Regions from separate parts of the Homo sapiens genome. Here regions 2, 3 and 4 are each reported to be linked to region 1. The links are microRNA targets in miRTarBase. Many come from high-throughput screens and were not tested one by one. Region 1 holds a microRNA gene; each other region holds the end of a gene's coding sequence. Distances are between the middles of the regions.

Region 1 (3,104 bases):
TAATTTTTTGTATTTTAATAGAAACAGGGTTTCACCGTGTTAGCCAGGCTGGTCTCAAACTGACCTCAGATGATCCGCCCGCCTTGGCCTCCCAAAGTGCTGGGATTACAGATGTGAGCCACCGCGCCCGGCCAGAGCACTGTTTTTTTTAATGGCCTTGCACTCTTCTTATGGACCTTTGCTGCCCTCAGTTGACCAAACATGACATCAGAAACAGATACATTTGTGTGTTTTAAAAACAGCTCCTAATACTGGAACAAAAATATTTAACTGTCTTGACAATACTCATGAGTATCTGCATGGCGACTTCAGAGTTGAGTTTAATCAAAGAGTTTATTCTTAGGTCCTAGTAGAAGAGCTAACCTCACACTCATCCCATTCTAAACTATGTGATTCAACACTGATTTTACATCCAACAAAGTGAAATCTTGATAGTTGGGTGTAAAAAGGAGAGTAATGGAGATTTCAGAGTAGTTGGGGTTGCTTACTTTTCATTTTTAATTCTTTAGGTTTTGTAAGTTACACACTTCAAGCATTATAGATGATCCTCTTTTTACTACTGAACTAATGAAGCCTTTTTCATTGCATTGTTCTGCATTTATTTCTACAGGGAGAAAACTGGTTGTCCTGGATGTTTGAAAAGTTGGTCGTTGTCATGGTGTGTTACTTCATCCTATCTATCATTAACTCCATGGCACAAAGTTATGCCAAACGAATCCAGCAGCGGTTGAACTCAGAGGAGAAAACTAAATAAGTAGAGAAAGTTTTAAACTGCAGAAATTGGAGTGGATGGGTTCTGCCTTAAATTGGGAGGACTCCAAGCCGGGAAGGAAAATTCCCTTTTCCAACCTGTATCAATTTTTACAACTTTTTTCCTGAAAGCAGTTTAGTCCATACTTTGCACTGACATACTTTTTCCTTCTGTGCTAAGGTAAGGTATCCACCCTCGATGCAATCCACCTTGTGTTTTCTTAGGGTGGAATGTGATGTTCAGCAGCAAACTTGCAACAGACTGGCCTTCTGTTTGTTACTTTCAAAAGGCCCACATGATACAATTAGAGAATTCCCACCGCACAAAAAAAGTTCCTAAGTATGTTAAATATGTCAAGCTTTTTAGGCTTGTCACAAATGATTGCTTTGTTTTCCTAAGTCATCAAAATGTATATAAATTATCTAGATTGGATAACAGTCTTGCATGTTTATCATGTTACAATTTAATATTCCATCCTGCCCAACCCTTCCTCTCCCATCCTCAAAAAAGGGCCATTTTATGATGCATTGCACACCCTCTGGGGAAATTGATCTTTAAATTTTGAGACAGTATAAGGAAAATCTGGTTGGTGTCTTACAAGTGAGCTGACACCATTTTTTATTCTGTGTATTTAGAATGAAGTCTTGAAAAAAACTTTATAAAGACATCTTTAATCATTCCAAAATTGTGTCCGTTTTCTTGAGCGTTTTGATTTTTTACTTTTAGCTTATACCAGCTGAATGGCAGCCTTGCCTAATCCACCTACAACAAGAATTTCTTAAGCTTTCTTTTATTTGCATGAGAGAGCCACTACCAAGGCATGTTTTGTTATGCTGAAACTGGGCTGCTGCATACTGCTAAATGGCACCTCTGGGATTGGCCTACCTGGGGATTTCTTGGTTTGTGAAAACAGGAGAGGAGAAATATCTCATACAAGTGAAAGGATACTGGAGAGAGAAATTACCCATTTCTAAAAAAAAACCACACTCTGTCGTATCTGTGTTAATGTTTTCTAGCATGTACTCTGGTTTCAACAGACACAAATTTATATGTTAACCCAGTTTTCTTGCCGTTCTGTAAGTGTTTTATTCTTAGTGTGATTTTTTTCCATTGGGATGTTTTTGATTGAACTTGTTCATTTTGTTTTGCTTGGGAGGAAAATAAACAATTTTACTTTTTTCCTTTAGGAGCATTATGAGCATTATGTCAGAATAGAATAGAATTGGGGTTCGATCTTAACAGGCCAGAAATGCCTGGGTTTTTTTGGTTTGTTTTTGTTTTTGTTTTTTTATCAAATCCTGCCTGACTGTCTGCTTGTTTTGCCTACCATCGTGACATCTCCATGGCTGTACCACCTTGTCGGGTAGCTTATCAGACTGATGTTGACTGTTGAATCTCATGGCAACACCAGTCGATGGGCTGTCTGACATTTTGGTATCTTTCATCTGACCATCCATATCCAATGTTCTCATTTAAACATTACCCAGCATCATTGTTTATAATCAGAAACTCTGGTCCTTCTGTCTGGTGGCACTTAGAGTCTTTTGTGCCATAATGCAGCAGTATGGAGGGAGGATTTTATGGAGAAATGGGGATAGTCTTCATGACCACAAATAAATAAAGGAAAACTAAGCTGCATTGTGGGTTTTGAAAAGGTTATTATACTTCTTAACAATTCTTTTTTTCAGGGACTTTTCTAGCTGTATGACTGTTACTTGACCTTCTTTGAAAAGCATTCCCAAAATGCTCTATTTTAGATAGATTAACATTAACCAACATAATTTTTTTTAGATCGAGTCAGCATAAATTTCTAAGTCAGCCTCTAGTCGTGGTTCATCTCTTTCACCTGCATTTTATTTGGTGTTTGTCTGAAGAAAGGAAAGAGGAAAGCAAATACGAATTGTACTATTTGTACCAAATCTTTGGGATTCATTGGCAAATAATTTCAGTGTGGTGTATTATTAAATAGAAAAAAAAAATTTTGTTTCCTAGGTTGAAGGTCTAATTGATACGTTTGACTTATGATGACCATTTATGCACTTTCAAATGAATTTGCTTTCAAAATAAATGAAGAGCAGCTGTCCTTCTTTCCTCTTTTAAGTGTTCAGCTGTGGCATGCTCAGAGGTTCCTGCTGGATTCCAGCTGGAGCGGTGTGATACCCTTCTTTTTCAGCTGTTCGTGCCTTCCTTTCTTGTATCCACCAAAGTGGAGACAAATACATGATCTCAAAGATACACAGTACCTACTTAATTCCAGCTGATGGGAGACCAAAGAATTTGCAAGTGGATGGTTTGGTATCACTGTAAATAAAAAGAGGGCCTGGGAATTCTTGCGATTCCATCTCTACTTTGT
Region 2 (3,104 bases), not on the chromosome of region 1:
GATGGAGGAACAGGGGCTGGCAGATGCATCCCTACTTAAAAAAGTGGGTTTTGAAGTTGAAAAGAAAGGCGAAAAGCTGATCCTGAAATCTACTAGAGACACCCCTAAGCCAGTAAGTACCCTCGAGGGAACTGTCCTTCCCTTTGGTTTGTAGAAAGCTGTTTCCACTTCCCCATTGCTTCAAGCACGAGGCTCTTTGTAAGAATATGGATGGGAGAATTGTGCCCTCTATAGTGGTTTACCGAGGAAAGCCCTAAAGATAGCTGCAAACGGTTTTTTTGTTCCGGCTTTATGCTGCCATTTTCTTAAAAGAGGGACAATTTCAAACTCATTCTGGGTGAGAAATACAAAAGGCATATCAAAAGTTATACATGGTCTAAAAGTAAGTTACTCATAGGAATTAGATTTTCTTTAAAAGATAGTTAATGTTCACTATAGTTTAAAAAACAGAACTCCTTGAATAATATTGCATGAATTGTTTTAGGTTTCTCTAAGTTATTTGTCACCACTGACCAAAGTTCTGGGTTTTTTCCCCTTTTGTCTGATGAATCTTGTGAACAGATTTGCTACATCTGCAATTTTGTTTCTTTCTTCTTCTTTAGTGAATGAACTACATCCAAATACCTGAATTTTTGGAATCTGTTTCATGGATTTTTCATCTTCTACCGTATGTGAAATTGCAAGTGTTTGAAGATTTATAAGTACAAATTTGGGAACATACAAATCTTTTAGGTAGTAGAGTTTAACGTGTATAAGCTAAAAGTGAAAGTAACTGAGTGTTCTCTTGTTTCTTTGCATTAATGTAACTGTGTGGTTTGCCTTTGTCCCCCTGGATAGAACGTGCATTTAAAGAATATATTGTACTTACTGTGACAGCAGATAATAAACCAGTCTCTTGGAGGGCACAACCCTTATTTGACAAAACTTGGATGTTGGCTTGACTGTGTTTGTCCCTTCAGATGGCAAGTCAGCATCATTCTTTATATTCCTCTTCTCATTGGGTTTTCTGAACTCTGGCAGGCGGTTGAAGTAGTTTCTCACTGTGATTAATTCTAGCAATCTCTTTTCACCCCTCTGCCTTTCCAAAACATTGACAAGACTCATTTCCAGTTAATTAATTCGAGAACCCTCCCTCTTCATTTTGGGTACTGGGCTGTCTTGTCACTGAGCCCTATCCCTTTGGAATGTGGCAGGGAGTGAGGTTGGTGAGAGAACATGTGGGCACTTAACTCTTCATGTTCCAGTTCATCCCAGAAGTAGACATCCCAGGACCCATTCTGTGTCAAGGTGAATGCCTGTGTCCTCCCCAGCTTCATGCCTCTGTCATGGGGGAAGGAATAGCTTATGTTCTGCTCTGGTGCAGTGCCGTAGATTAAAGGTACATTTCTATCTTCTTTGATTTAAAAAGCACCAGTCTCATAAAGGTGCCACTCAGTTTTAGCCATGTCTTCACTGAAATTGCAAAAGTACTTTTAGGGAGCAGGAGTTTATTTGACATCTAGTTATCTGTCTGTCTGTTCATCTATCTATCTGTCTGCTGTATGAGAGGTAGGACTGGATTAAATGACCACTGAACTCACTGAATCCAGATCATTCATATCATCAACAAAAGCTCTAGGGGGAGGTCACGTTGTGAATGCTTAAAACATATTATTTTCTTCAACAACCATATCGCTAAACTAATATATCCAGAGATTTTGCACAATTCGTGTTGAACCTTCCAAAACAAAAATAAAGACCTGTCCAAAAGTTTTGACAAAAATACTGATTGCTCCCAAATAAAGTGCTTCTAAGCTTTGTGTAGACATAGTTTAACTGATTTGTAAAAATAGCTTAAGCATGTTGAGAATGAAGTAAAAGTTTTCCCATGTGCTGTCTAATGTACTCTGTGTAACTCTGAAGACACATCAGCTTCTAGGATTGCAGCAATCTATGAATAACATTTTTTCTCTCATTTATGACTTTCCATCAGTAAAGAAGCCATTGCAGAATTTAAAATTACACAAAGGAGTCATTCTCTCCTGGGACATAAAGAGTTAAAGCTCTGTCCTCTAAATAGAAGCCTGGCCAAAGGGAGAAAACAGTGGGAGTCCCTTTTCCCTTTTAACAAGTTTGCAATAGACACTTCTTTTTTTCCTGTCTCAATGGATGTGTGCACACCAGTGGAATCGCACAAACTTGTCGGTATGAGCTATATAATAACAAACACAAATAAATAAAAGGGAGCCTTGTGAGAATACAGAATGGGGTAATGGTTATGTGTTTTCTAAGTAGGAAGTGTGGGGCTTGCATAGTGAAAACATGCTGATGACTGCATTGTGGCTGCCTTTGATTCCCTCGGATGGATTAATTCTTGAGCACAACAGCTTCCCTGTCCTCTACCGTGGAGGACTCGGAGCTCCTGAGAACCTTGTTTTACATGCTATAGAGGATTAATCATCACCTCAATCAGTCATTTAGAAGGAAGAAAAAAGCAGGCCAGCCTTACAAAATTTGTAAAGAGACAGAATGGTCACAGCAAGTTTTGTGACCATATTATTGCTTTCAAGAGCGAGCTGACAAAGCTTTTAGCTGGCTTCACTTTAAAAGATAGAGGGGAAGGCTTCTCAGCTTGATACTGAGTCCAAGTATTTGCAGAGTGATTATTTTTTAATACCTTAACAATGGATGTGAAGATTTCAAAAATACTTATTTTTGCAATCTTAAAACAGTCGGCTCTCTGTATCCACAGATTGAACCAACTGGGGATTGAAAATACTCAGGAAAAATAAAATAGTAGTACAACAACAAAAAATAATACAAATTTTAAAATACAAGGTAACAACTATTTCCATAGCATTTACATTTTATTAGGTGTTACAAGTAATCTGGAGATGATTTAAAGTATGTGGGAGAATGCGGGTAGTTTATATGCAAATACTGTGAAGGCTCATATCAGAGACTTGAGCATCCATAGATTTTGGCATCCAAGCGGGGGTTCCTGAAACCAATACTCCACAGATTTCAAGGGCCAACTTACTAAACTGTTAGGATTTGTTAATATTTGTTCATTGTCCTCCTGCCCCAGCCGTGTAAGACATGCCTGCTTCCTCTTCTGCCATGAT
Region 3 (3,104 bases), not on the chromosome of region 1:
CACTCTGAACATAGTTACTTCTGGACACCCTGGGCAACAGTGGTTGCCTCTGGGCATGACATGGTTCCTGAAAGGGGCTAAGGGGAAATGTTCTCTCCCAGTCTGTGGCCTGTATTACCATTTTCCTAGCAATGTTTTTTGGTGATGTCCAATTCACCAATAATTCCTTTTTTTTTTTCCTTTTGAGACGGAGTCTTGCTCTGTCACCCAGGCTGGAGTGCAGTGGTGTGATCTCGGCTCACTGCAACCTCTGCCTCCCAGGTTCAAGCGATTCTCCTGTCTCAGCCTCCTGAGTAGCTGGGACTACAGGTGTGCGCCACCACGCCCGGCTGATTTTTGTATTTTTAGTAGAGACGGGGTTTCCCCATATTGGTCAGGCTGGTCTGGAACTCTTGACCTCAGGTGATCCACCCACCTTGACCTCCCAAAGTGCTGGGACTGCAGGCATGAGCCACCGTGCTCGGCCCCTTTTTTGATTTTATGTAAGAAATCTTTGTCTACCCCAAGTTTGTAGTGTTAATTTCCCATGTTTGCTTCTAGAAGCTTTCTAGTCCTAACTTCCACATTTTGTTGTTTCCAGTTCTAGCTTTCATATTTTTTTTCTTTTTCTTATTTTTTTCTGAGACAGAGTCTCGCTCTGTCGCCCAGGCTGGAGTGCAGTGGCATGATCTCAGCTCACTGCAACCTCCGGCCACCCAGGTTCAAGCAATTCTCTGGCCTCAGCCTCCTGAGTAGCTAGGATTACAGGTGTGTGCCACCACGCCCAGCTAATTTTTGTATTTTTAGTAGAGACAAGGTTTCACCACATTGGTCAGGCTGGTCTCGAACTCCTGACCTCATGATCCACCCACCTTGGCTTCCCAAAGTGCTGGGATTGCAGGCATGAGTCACTATGTGTGGCCTTTTTTTTTTTTAAAGATAGTCTCACTCTATAAAAAGAAAATATGGAAAAATTTAATAGTAAGCATAATTCTATTCAAAATATAACTGGTTAGCTCACAAAAATTGCTCAGAAATATTGCCAGGCACAGTGGCTCACGCCTGTAATCCCAGCACTTTGGGAGGCTAAGGCGGGTGGATCACCTGAGGCCAGGAGTTCGACACCAGTCTGGCCAACAAGGTGAAACCCTGTCTCTACTAAAAATACAAAAATTAGCTGGGCGTGGTGGTGCACGCCTGAGATCCCAGCTACTCGGGAGGCTGAGGCAGGAGAATCACTTGAATCCAGGAGGCAGAGGTTGTAGTGAGCCGAGATCGTGCTACTGCACTGCAGCCTAGGTAACAGAGTGAGCCTCCACATTTCAAAAAACAAGGAAATACCAAACAATAGTATGTACCAACAGTTGGCCCTAAGTGAAGTTGGCCTTTTACATTTATCGCTATCAGTTGAAGCTATTTTCCATGTAGAACTTCTCAGGCACAACAAAACATATATACATTTCTTTCTTTCTTTTTTTTTGTTGGAGACAAGGTCTTGCTCTGTTGTCCAGGCTGGAGTGCAGTGATGCAATCATGGTTCACTGCAGCCTTGACCTCCCGGTCTCAATCGATCCTCCCACCTCAGCCTCCCAAGTAGCTGGGACCACAGGCATGTGCCACCATGCTTGGCTAATTTTTTTTTTTCGGAGTCTTGCTCTGTCACCCAGGATGGAGTGCAGTGGTACAATCTAGGCTCACCGCAACCTCTGCCTCCTGGGTTCAAGTGATTCTCCTGCCTCAGCCTCCCAAGTAGCTGGGATTACAGATGTGGGCCACCACACCTGGCTAATTTTTTTGTATTTTTAGTAGAGACGGGGTTTCACCACATTGGCCAGGCTGGTCTTGAACTCCTGACCTCAGATGATCCGCCCACCTCGGCCTCCCAAAGTGCTGGGATTACAGGGGTGAGCCACCGTGCCCAGCCCTTGGCTAATTTTTAAGTTGTTTTTGGAGAGATGGGGTCTCATATGTTGCCTAGGCAGGTCTTAAACTGCTGGCCTCAAGGAATCCTCTCACCTCAGTCTTTCAAAGTGCCAGGATTACAAGCTTGAGAAACTACACCCAGCCAAAATATAAACATTTCTAGGACAGCTACATCTAAGACAACTTTTAGGGAAGACAACATGTAAAACTCTATATAAAAAGCTTCTGTGACTGTAGGACAGCAGCAAAAGGATAATAAAATGATTTTAAGTCCTTTAATTTATTTTGAATATCAGTAATTACATTTTCAAAATATGATATAATTTAAAGGTATCAGTACCATAAATCTGTATCTTACAGTAGGAAATGTAAGAGTAAACAGCCTATATACACTTTGTACTACTGACACAATTTTATGTATACAACTCTATACAGTATCTACTAATCTCCAGAAAACCCACCTACAATCCATCTGTCTGGACTGTGGGCAAGTGGTTCTTTCTGAGTCAGGGTCTCACTCTGTCACCCAGGTTGCACTGCAGTAGTGCAATCATGGCTCACTGTAGCCTTGACCTCCTGGGCTCAAGTAATCCTCCCATCTTTGCCTCCTGAGTAGCTGGGACTACAGGTACACACCACCATGTCTGGATACATTTTGTATTTTTGGTAGACACCGGGTTTCACCATGTTGCCCAGGCTGGCCTCAAACTCCTGGGCTCAAGTGATCTGCCTGTCTTGGCCTCCCATCGTGCTGGGATTAGAGGCATGAGCGACTGTGCCAGGCTGACTGTGGACAAGTTTTACAAATAAACCAAAATAAAAATATTTTCACTTTTCAGCTGCACATGGTGGAAATGTACATGTATGATGACAAAGTCGGAGATATTTATTACGCTGAAGACATTTAACTTTGTTCCATGCCAGCCATGAGTGACAACGCTAGAGATTCCACTGTGGGAAGAATAAAAATAAGGTTAAAACAATAGGTTTAAATGTTGAAAAAAAATTTTTTTTGAAGACGGAGTCCCACTGTCACCCAGGCTGGAGTGCAATGGTACAATCTCAGCTCACTGCAACCTCTGCCTCCCGGGTTCAAGCAATTTTCCTGCCTCAGCCTGCTGTGTAGCTGGGATTTCAGGCATGTGCCACCATGCCTAGCTCATTTTTGTATTTTTAGCAGAGACAGGGTTTTGCCATGTAGG
Region 4 (3,104 bases), 21 Mb from region 1:
GTTCAAGAACAGTCTGGGCAACAAAGTTGAGACCCCGCTTCTACAAATGCCTCTACCCCCACCAAAGACTAGCATGGAGGCAGGCCTGTGTTCCCAGCCATACTGGAGGCTGAGGAAGGAGGACCGCTTGACCCCAGGAGGTTGAGGCTACAGTGAGCCGTGTTTGCATCACTGCACTCCAGCCTGGGCAACAGAGTGAGACCCTGTCAAAAAAAAAGGCCTTGGCACCAGCTCTGCCTTCAGCTAGCAAGGCATGTCACCTTTCTGGGCCTGTTTCCATTACCCAGTCTCTGCTTGAGCGGCTTCTGGGATGGGGAGTACACTTCTGTGCCAGCCAGCCAGTTTGCTATGGGGCATCCCCTCCTCCTTGTAACCTTCACTCCCTGTCACGTGCCCAGTTATTCCCTGGAGCCAAACAAAATTGCTACCACAGTGTACTCTCCAGCCCAAAGAAGTTTTAACCCAGGAACATGGGAAGTAAATGAATTTCATGATCCAGTGGAGACTCAGAGACACACACACACACACACACACACACACACTCACACTCTATTAGTGTCCTGGCCCTCTGGGTGTCCCAGAGACTAATGCTATAAAGACTCTGTAAATACTTACCAGACACTTACTATAGGCAAAGTGCATCACGATCATATTTTATTTCCTCATACAACTCTACTCTTATCACCCCCACATTACAGATAAGAGAGGTCACTCAGTGAGCCTTGGCAGTCTTGCTCTGGAGCCTGTACCCTAACCACTGTGCTCCACTCCCCCTGAGCTCCTGCAGCCTGCCCTGCCCTGCCCCAGCAGGTGGGGTCAGGTCTTTGACTCCTGTCTTTCCCCCACCAGCCCTTCTGTGACGGCTCCCACTTCTTCCAACGCACTGGCCTATCTCCACTCAAGTTCAAGGCCCAAGAGACCCGCATGGTGGCACTCTGTACCTGCAAGGCCACTCAGAGGCCCCCGTACTGCGATGGCACCCACAGGAGTGAGCGCGTGCAGAAGGCAGAAGTGGGCTCCCCACTCTGAGGGGGCTGCTGCTGTCCAGCCACAGGTGGCCTTGGCTCCAGGCCTCTGACAGGCACCCCCTTCTGTGGGAAAGGAAACAGGTGCTGAGCCCAAGAGACTCTGGTACCCACTGCTGGCTCATGAAGGAAGAATTATTCCTTATAACCTAAAAGTCTCCAGTCTGGGGCAGGCGGGAGTGGGCCCTGGTTCAATGTTTGCTGATGGGGAAGATGGCAAAAACAAGCCTGCCCAACCAGACTGGTAGTCCTGCAGTCACTGCTATGAGGCCCACGTGCTGCCTCCTGCTCCAGATTTTAACCTCTCTGTGGGCTGGGGGCACCTGACCAGCCACAGGAGAGGGCAGTTCAGATTCATTCTGTATGGGGTCCCCAAGCCAGGCTAAACCCAGAGATGAGAGGCACCCTTCCCTTCTTCCCTCCACCCCAAAGAACTACAGGCTCCAGAAAGTATGCAGCATTTATTACAAAGCCAAGAGATACAGATGTCCCAGGGCAAAGGAGGGTACAGTCACAGGACCTCAGACACAGGACAAGGTGCAAACACAGACAAGCCCATCAGGGGGCTCCCAACCCCACACACCTACGCTATGATGGAATCTCGAGTCTCGACTCCCGACTCCTCTCAGATCTATGCACACTTGAGGAAATCTCGGTGGGCAGCGACCTGCCAGGGTCTGTCCCTAAGGAGGTGGTCCGCTGACCTCTCAAGGGGTGGGGGTGGGGTCAGAGCTTACAGGTTTCTGTCTTCTTGTGCTTTTAGATGCAGTTGCTCTGTCCTGACCAGGTGACCGGGCCTCAGCTGGGGGTGGAGGGGCAATTGGAAGGCTGTTTGCCTCTGGCAAAGTCTGGGATCTGTGCTTGTGTGAGGTTAACCCACCCCCACTTCCACTCTAGGCCCCAGGTGAGACTCCACCACCAGTCCTGCTAGTGAGGGTTCCCCGGTGAGGGTAAGGTTGGTGGGGGTGCAGCGCTTCACAATGCTAAAGCCTTAGCCCTCCTCCAAGAGCTGAGACCTCTCAGGGCCTGAATCTTCTTTTCCACAAGATAAATGATGCAAAGGCCACACACACAGGAAAAAAAAAAAAAGAGGCAGAACTATCTATTCTTTGCACAAAGTTTCCACTGCAAGAGGAGGAGGTGATGCAGGTGCCACCTCCACCCTGCACTTGCTCCTCAGAACCAGGGATAAACTGCATTTGTAAAAGGCACTGTTCTTAGCAATTTCTGGACATTCAACAACGTGGGGGGCGGCCACTGGTCAGAGGCAGGACAGCAGCCAAGATGGGGAGAGAAACGGGGAGAGAAAGAAACGATTCTAACTGACTCCTATATGCAGCCAGTTGGAATCATGCCTAAAGCTTTGGGTCTGAAGGGGCCCCCAACACACCACCTGCCTTGGGAAACAGCGAGGATGGTGCAGAGCTTTATTGAGACTCCAGTGGCCCATCCAGTTCATCTCCAGGCACCCCCAAAAACAGCAAATTACACAAGACCCCCCCCAAAAAAAATGAACACCATTTTCCACACATACACACACACATAAAGTTTGTTTCCTGTGGCATTTAAATTAATCTGGTTGGTCCATAGAAAATAAGTATGTATATTTGGTTTTTCCTATGTACATATATATATATATTTATTTATAAAACCCGCCCCCCACCCCCAAGGTGGGAAGAGCTGGGGAAAGTAGAAGAGGTGGAAAAAAGGGCCCAGAAAAAGTGGAAGGAGTGGAGAGGCTTGGCTGGAAGAAGGGAGAGGGTCCCTGGCCTCAAGTTAAGGGGGGCACGGGAGCGCCGTTGACAGTCATCTTGCGCCCCCTGCTGGTGGAGGATGGTGTCTGCAGGCAGTTCAAGCTACCCCCGTTGGCAGCTGTGGTGGCCCCACTGGCTGTCGAAGGGGGAGTGGGGGAGGTAGGGTGGGTGGCTGGAGGCCCATGGGAACTGGGAGAGCCATGGGATGGGGTGGCTGGGCTGGGCAGGGAGGAGGAGGTGGCTGGCAGGGTGGCAGGGCTGGGAGCCTTGTCGCTGACTGACTCACACTCGGACGCCCCGCTGGTGTTGGTGCCCTCGGAGGGGG

What was found. The annotated mature microRNA hsa-miR-21-5p reads UAGCUUAUCAGACUGAUGUUGA and lies in region 1 at 2,116-2,137, shown strand. An mRNA with a match to its seed (bases 2 to 7 or 8) in the 3' UTR can be bound and repressed. Matches are read on the target gene's strand: a 7mer-m8 pairs with bases 2 to 8, a 7mer-A1 pairs with bases 2 to 7 and ends in A, and an 8mer does both.
Region 2: the mRNA of ATXN10 is a reported target of hsa-miR-21-5p. Seed matches in the 3' UTR shown: 8mer at 752-759.
Region 3: the mRNA of TUBGCP5 is a reported target of hsa-miR-21-5p. The part of its 3' UTR that is shown has no 7-base or 8-base seed match.
Region 4: miRTarBase lists PCGF2 as a target of hsa-miR-21-5p. The part of its 3' UTR that is shown has no 7-base or 8-base seed match.

Annotation. Positions count from the first base shown.
Region 1 is chr17:59,839,158-59,842,261 of GRCh38, forward strand. MIR21 (microRNA 21) reads left to right here and starts at 2,109; the gene lies at 2,109-2,180. It overlaps VMP1 (vacuole membrane protein 1), which reads left to right. Exons shown (of 12, transcript NM_030938.5): 12 at 611-3,098. The coding sequence ends at 754. RefSeq lists enhancers at 1-431, 1,155-1,884.
Region 2 is chr22:45,843,067-45,846,170 of GRCh38, forward strand. ATXN10 (ataxin 10) reads left to right here. Exons shown (of 12, transcript NM_013236.4): 11 at 1-112; 12 at 603-2,241. The coding sequence ends at 605. Among named protein-coding and RNA genes, the nearest start is that of MIR4762, 84 kb to the left of the region's middle. RefSeq lists an enhancer at 1,969-3,104.
Region 3 is chr15:22,997,014-23,000,117 of GRCh38, forward strand. TUBGCP5 (tubulin gamma complex component 5) reads right to left here. Exons shown (of 23, transcript NM_052903.6): 23 at 2,164-2,853. The coding sequence ends at 2,807. Among named protein-coding and RNA genes, the nearest start is that of CYFIP1, 18 kb to the left of the region's middle.
Region 4 is chr17:38,732,427-38,735,530 of GRCh38, forward strand. PCGF2 (polycomb group ring finger 2) reads right to left here. Exons shown (of 11, transcript NM_007144.3): 11 at 1,472-3,104. The coding sequence ends at 2,797. It overlaps CISD3 (CDGSH iron sulfur domain 3), which reads left to right. Exons shown (of 4, transcript NM_001136498.2): 4 at 850-3,104. The coding sequence ends at 1,029. Among named protein-coding and RNA genes, the nearest start is that of CISD3, 3.6 kb to the left of the region's middle. RefSeq lists an enhancer at 2,497-3,024.